2 linked regions of the Homo sapiens genome follow. The protein of the gene in region 1 purifies or fractionates together with the protein of each later gene. This does not show direct contact. Each region holds a gene or a part of one and is shown on either strand. Other genes may lie near its edges.

What was found. Proteins that work in one complex are often made in the same cells at the same time.
Region 2: the proteins of PARVB (region 1) and PFKFB2 fractionate together in Homo sapiens (co-fractionation; one large-scale study listed by BioGRID). This does not show direct contact.

The regions. Positions count from the first base shown.
Region 1 is NC_000022.11:44,027,302-44,030,801, reverse strand, and holds part of PARVB (beta-parvin), read right to left. Parts: intron 1-3,500. UniProt on the Homo sapiens protein: Adapter protein that plays a role in integrin signaling via ILK and in activation of the GTPases CDC42 and RAC1 by guanine exchange factors, such as ARHGEF6. Is involved in the reorganization of the actin cytoskeleton and formation of lamellipodia.
Region 2 is NC_000001.11:207,056,275-207,059,774, forward strand, and holds part of PFKFB2 (6-phosphofructo-2-kinase/fructose-2,6-bisphosphatase 2), read left to right. Parts: intron 1-3,500. UniProt on the Homo sapiens protein: Synthesis and degradation of fructose 2,6-bisphosphate.

The DNA.
Region 1 (3,500 bases):
AAAATCGTCCAAAAGAGACCACACTCCTTGCAAATCCTTTCCCACCCCTCCCACAAACAAGGATCTGGGTCCTTTTTCATTTCAGCATCAGAGGGGCTGCAGCCCGCTAGAAAACAGCGTGGAAATCACAGCCACGCCTGCGCCCACCCACGCCACCTCCTCGGGGCACTGCCTGTGCCCCGTGCCACATTCCTGCCAGCCTGCCTCCCCGCCGTTCCCCCATTCCGTCCATTCCCCACTCCCCAAAGCACCACTGAAATCGGCCACCCCTGCCAAGCCCCAGCAAGGGTTCCAAGCTCCTGTGTTTGTGGGACGCCAGGGCTGCTCACCTCTCCAGCCCCCGACCAGGGCTGGCCACAGCCCACAGGCTGCACCGTTGCTCAGCCACTGGGAGCCTGCCTGGGGGTCTCCTCAGGAGCCCCCTCCCCCTCCCTGGGCTAATTTACATCCATCCTAGACATTCAGCCAGGACCACTTCCTCCAGGGAGGCCCAAAACCCCAAGTCTGGGTGGTGAGACCCCCATGGCTCAGTCCCCCCATCTGCCTGTCCCTCAAACTGTCCTGAGTGGGGCCTGAGCCAGGGTCTCACCCACCCCCAGCTCCCAGCCCAGGCGTTGCTGGGGGGAAAGGCGGGGGCAGTGCAGGCCCCCCTGCCACAGCTCCCCTCCCTTCACTGGTGCGTCTTAGTGTTTTGGGGCAACCCATCATCTACACAACTGATGGCTCCGTGTAAAAGATGGATGCCCTGAAGGAAATTCTCGGTTGCTGGTTTAGAGCTTTGAGATTTCTCTCCTGAAGGTTATTTAAAGTCCACAAAGAAACTTAATACTTTCAACCTTCAGTTCAATGTCGCAGCTACCTAGTGATTTCTTTTCTTTTCTTTTTTTTTTTTGAGGCAGAGTCTCGCTTTGTCTCCCAGGCTGGAGTGCAGTGGCGCGATCTCAGCTCACTGCAACCTCTGCTTCCCGGGTTCGAGTGATTCTCCTGCCTCAGCCTCCTGAGTAGCTGGGATTACAGGTGTGTGCCACCACGCCCGGCTAATTTTTGTATTTTTAGTAGAGATGGGGTTTCACCACGTTGGCCAGGCTGGTCTCAAACTCCTGACCTCAGGTGATCTGCCGCTTCAGCCTCCCAAAGTGCTGGGATTACAGGCGTGAGCCACCACGCCTGGCTAATTTTTCTATTTTTAGTAGAGACCGGGTTTCCCCACGTTGGCCAGGCTGGTCTCAAACTCCTGGCCTTAGGTGATCCACCTGCCTCAGCCTCCCAAAGTGCTGGGATTATGTGTCTGGCCTAGTGATTTCTTTAGATCTAGTTGATGAGGTCTCAATATCTTGCTCATTAATCATTAACTCTACATCAAATGCTTAGGAGATATCAGGATCAAGAGACAGGGAAGACAAGCCGCTGGCTGGGAGAAAATATTTGCAAAACACATGACTTGTATCCAAAATATATGAAGAACACTTCCAACTCAACAGTAAGGAAACAAACAAGCAGATTTAAAAATAGGCCAAGGCCGGGCACTGTGGCTCACGCATGTAATCCTAGCACTTTGGGAGGCCAAGGCAGGTGGATCTCCTGAGTCCAGGAGTTTGAGAGCAGCCTGGGTAACATAGCGAGACCCCATCTCTACAAAAAATAGAAAAATTAGCTGGGCATGGTGGTATGTGCCTGTAGTCCCAACTACTCCAGAAGCTGAGGCATGAGGATCACTTGAGCCCCAGGAGATTGAGGCTGCAGTGAGCCAGGATCGTGCCACTGCACTCCAGCCTGGGCTACAGTGAGACCCTATCTCAAAAATAAAATAAAAATAAAAATAAATAAAATACAAATGAGCCAATGACCTTAATAGACACTTCACTGAAGAAGATACACAGATGGCAAATAAGCATCTGAAGAGATGCTCCACTTCATACCTCATCAGGGAAATGCGAATTGAAACAGCAACAAGACACCACAATACACCTAACAGAATTCCAAAATCCAGAACACTGACACCACCAAATACTGGTGAGGATGCAGAGCAGCCAGGACTCTCGTTCGCCACCGGTGAATAAATGTGGCACAGCCACTTTGGAAGAGAGTTTGGCAGTTTCTTCCAAAACGAGACACACTCTTACCATACGATCCAGCAATTGAGCTCAAATGAATTAAAACCTTATCTCCACACAAAAACCTACACGTAGATGTACACAGCAGCTTTATTCATAACTGCCAAAACTTGGAAGCAACCAAGATGTCCTTCAGCAGGTGAATGGATCAACAAACTGGCACATCCAGACAACGGAATATTATTCAGTCAAAAAAGGAATGAGCTACCAAGCCCTGAGAAGACATGGAAGGGCCTTCAATGTATATCATTGAGTGGAAGAAGCCAATCTGAAAACGCTACTGTACACTTTATGATCACAACTAGATGATAGTCTGGAAAAGGCAAAAACACAGATACAGTAAAAAAAACAAAAACAAAAACCAAAAAAACAAAACAAAAAAATGATCCGTGGTTGCCAGGGATTTGGGGAAACGGAGGGATGCATAGGCAGCAGAAAGAGGATTCTGGGGTCAGTGACGCTGCTCCAGAGGTGACTGTAATGGTGGGTCCATGTCACTCTACATCCATCCAGAGCCACAGAATGTCCAACGGCAAGAGCAACCCCTAATGTAAACTATGAGCTTGCGGAGATAATGATGTCTCAGCGTTGGCTCACGACTCTACCACACAGCCGGGGGGCACTGATGGAGGTGAGAAGGGATAGGTGGGGACACTTTGTATTCTTTGCTAGATTTCGCTGTAAACCTAAAACTGCTTTAAAAATATACGTCAATATATATATGTGAATATATATACACACACATGAATATATATATATATATATATATATATGGTTTTTTTTTCTATTTGATATGGAGTCTCACTCTGTTGACCAGCCTGCAGCGCAGTGAGGCAATCTCAGCTCACTGCAACCTCCACCTCCCAGGTTCAAGCGATTCTCCTGCCTCAGCTTCCCAAGTAGCTGGGATTACAGGCACACGCCACCATGCCCGGCTAATTTTTGCGTTTTTACTGGAGATGGGGTTTCACCATGTTGACCAGGCTGGTCTCGAATTCCCGACCTCAGGTGATCCACCCACCTCGGCCTCCCAGAGTGCTGGGATTACAGGCGTGAGCCACCTCACCTGGCCCACACATACATATTTTTTAAGGTAATCAGGGGATAGAAACTTCCTGAATGTGTTGCTCAGAAAAGAGGGACAGAACCTCCAGACTGGCTGCTCTCGCCCCGCTGCCTTCAGCTGTCTCTGAGAAACCTGACCCTGGCCACTGGGCAGTGGCGCCTGAGGTCCAGTGCCTGGTGCAGCACAGAACAGGCCTCTTGTGGCAAATGTGTGGAGCACTCCACCCGACCTCTTCCACACTGGCCAGGGCCGGCCATCCGCCTCTGAGGACTTCCAGCAGCAGCTGGGCTGTCCCCGACCTCCATCCTGGCCCACTGGAC
Region 2 (3,500 bases), on another chromosome or scaffold:
TTGGAAGCTCACTATTTAAAAGAGGGCTGTGAATAATTATTTTTTCAGTAAAAAATGTTTTCTTCTCTTATTTGACAATATTGTAACCCAGATTTGGGGATCTAGGATGCACCTCTTACAGGGAGGTACACTAATGTTACTAGGGTGCTTGATCCAAAAGAGAGCTGGGGCTGGGGGGCAGGATCGATAATTGTGGGAGTCTCTGACTACACGATGCCATGTGTCAGTCCTTCTAGCTTTGCTTTTTTCTCCATGGTAGGAATCTCTTCTACCTGCTTTCCTAACTCTTCTGTAGTTCCTTTGCCTTGAGGGCTTTCAAGTCAGGGAAGCAGTAATCCCTGGTTTCTTTCCTGTCTTCTAGACTCTAATTCCTGCTCTGGGCTCTAATCTCTTTTTTTCCATACTCTAGTTTCTCTAAATGCCTTTTTCTTCTCTAAGAAGAAGAAGGTGTCCTAAAGCCACTGTGATTTATTTACCCTATTCTCTCCTCACGTCACAGTCGGGCTGTGAGACTGTTGCAGACATAGTCAAAGGAGAAAATAAAGTTATGAGTATATGTGTTAACTTACTTCCTTTTCCTCTGCTATAGAGCTGTACTTTGGAGCTGGTTCACCTGGCAGCTTAGTGTTCACATCAGCGGCTGCTTTATTAATAGCTTAACCGTTGTTCCCTTGCTGCTCATTACACCTGTGTTGGCTAACTTTGACTCCGGGAAGTGACTGGGCTTGAGGATTTCAGGGCTGAAGAATGACTTTAGGGAGCCAAAACCTCCGAAGGAGCATTACTGGGACTTCAACTGCTCCAGGGATGGGGCGAAGAGGGGCTACTGGCCGAGGTGCCTTTACGGTGCTCAGAGGACTGGTTTCAGGGCTTATGAAAGCAGAAATGGAGGGCCGGGTGTGGTGGCTCACGCCTGTAATCCCAGCACTTTGGGAGGCCGAGGAGGGTGGATCATGAGGTCAGGAGATCAAGACCATCCTGGCTAACATGGTGAAACCCCGTCTCTACTAAAAATACAAAAAAACTACAAAAAAAAAAAAAAAAAAAAAAAAAACTAGCCGGGCATGGTGGCGGGCGCCTGTAGTCCCAGCTACTCGGGAAGCTGAGGCAGGAGAATGGCTTGAACCCGGGAGGCGGAGCTTGCAGTGAGCCGAGATCGCGCCACTGCACTACAGCCTGGGTGACAAAGTGAGACTCCATCTCAGGGGGAAAAAAAAAAAGCAGAAATGGAGAAATCTACATGCTTTTTTTTTTTCTTTTTAATTTTTTTTTTTGAGTAGTTCTGGAACAGACAAATTCTTCCATGTACCTTTCCCTAAATACAAAAGCAATGTATGTTCATAAAAAATTCAAACTACAGAAAGGATTTAGAAAGCGAAAAGTAAAAGACTCCTGTTTCTTCCAAATTTGATTCTTTTAGACATCTTATTCTGGTATATCCTATTAATAAAGGTAGGTTCATATTGTTCATATTCTGTTCAGCTGCCATTTCCTTTTTTATTTTTTTAAATAAGTTACTGTCTTGTGGACATCCTTTTAATGTTGATAAATGCAGATTTACCTCATTCTGCATTGTATGGATATGCCAGCTTTCCACGGATAGGTATTTAAATTGTTTCCAGTTTTTCATCATCACAAAGAGTGCTGCAGTGACCATTCTTACACGTACACCTTTGCACATTTGTGACAGCAACTTTTCCTACAGAAATAATAGAAAAGATAGACACATTGGAAATGTTCATCAGTATTACTAATTTGCTCTCCTAAGAAGTTCTATATTGTAAGCTGTTTTCAATATTTTAAGATATTTGATGGAAATTGGGCAGCATCAACTATAGCCATAGTGGTTAACTGAAACATCAGCTTTCTTAGTGTTTGACCGTAGTTATACGAACTTGGTTATTTCATGCCTGTCAACTGGCAGGAGATAATCAGCAGTTCTGACTTCTGATGAATAAAGATAAAATGTCACTAATGAAACATGCTTTATGGGCAGCATATTTCTAAATATTAGGCCTCTTTAGAGCCAATAAAAGAAGACGTCCTGGGTCCTGAAAAGGCTGGGAACCATTGCTCTCCTAGACCATCCTTCAGGATTAGAATGGAGAGCAAGTTGTGTTTACCGTGAGGGAACCTTTGTCAAGTGCTGACATGAGGCACAGGAGCTGGCAGCTGGGACTGAATGGGCAGTCATGAGATCAGGAGACTGGTCAGAACCCTGACCTTGACTGTCTATTGTGGGACCATGGGCAAAGCTCTTAATTTCTCCAGGCTTGAGTTTTTCCATTTACACGAGGGAAGTTATCAAGTCCTCATTTTTTTTGTAAATCTTTTTTTTAAAATACATTTATTTATTTATTTTGAGACCGGGTTATGAGACTGGCTAATTTTTATATTTTTAGTAGAGATAGTGTTTCACCATGTTGCCAAGGCTGGTCTCAAACTCCTGGGTTCAGGCGATCCACCCAACTTGGCCTCCCAAAGTGAGGATTACAGGCATAAGCCACTGCGCCCAGCCTCAAGTCTTCATTTTATCTAAGCAAGTTTATGAAAGGAAAATGAGTTTAAGTTTAAGAAAAGGAGTTGAACCTGGCTTAAAGAAGGTGGAAGAGAATTTCAGGATTGAAACAGTTTTCCATTGTCTATCAAGAGATGGGTTACATTGTCTCTGAAATTAATCAGGTGGCAGTGGCAGGTGGTTTTGTTTTTTAACAGGCAGGACAGAATGTTCCTACTTTTGCCAGTGTGGTAATTTGAGATAGGAAGTGTGGTTTAGTTTTGTACTCCAGAAAATGAGAAGCCCTGGTTGTAGCAGGTGTGCTTAAGTGTATTCTGGACAGAGGCGAGAGGTGCGTTGCTGGAGGGCTCTTGGGAGGTCCCAGTGGATGCAGTTTTTTGTTGTTGTTGTTCTTAGCATTCTCTGTCCACATGGGTAAACAAGAGCAGCTGGTTCCCTGGTTGCCTTCAGAGCAGCTCCCAAGTATCAGTTCATTTTAAACTTTAGGGAGGGTAATAGGACCTTCGGGGGAAGTGCCTAATGGGCTGGAAGGTGCGGACAAAGCAGGCCTAGAAGTGCAGGTAATGAGCCAAATCATGGGGGATTGAGAGCAGGCATTGAGCCGAGCTGGAGAAAGTGAAGACTCAGGGGATTTTACTACTTAAACCTGAGACAGCTGATCCCATGCAGAGGCTATCTGCTTGTTAGGGGCCAGTGATCAGGGATTAATGCCAGCTGAGGCTTCAGGGTACAGTTTGCTTGCCTTTAAGCTCCCTATTTGAACACAGATGAAAATCACTTATGTTGCTCCTTTACCTACCTTGGAGGGGCTCCTGCTGAGACTCAGGAATTTTCCATGTGTGCAGTGGGTAAAGGACTAAAAGCCAAGCCCTCTGACCCCAGGTCTGGGCCTCCATTTCTCCCTCCTCACCACTAGGGTCACTCTGAGTACTTCTTGCCAAACACCCTTAGGAAACTTTTCCTTCCGAGGGTGGTTCTCTAC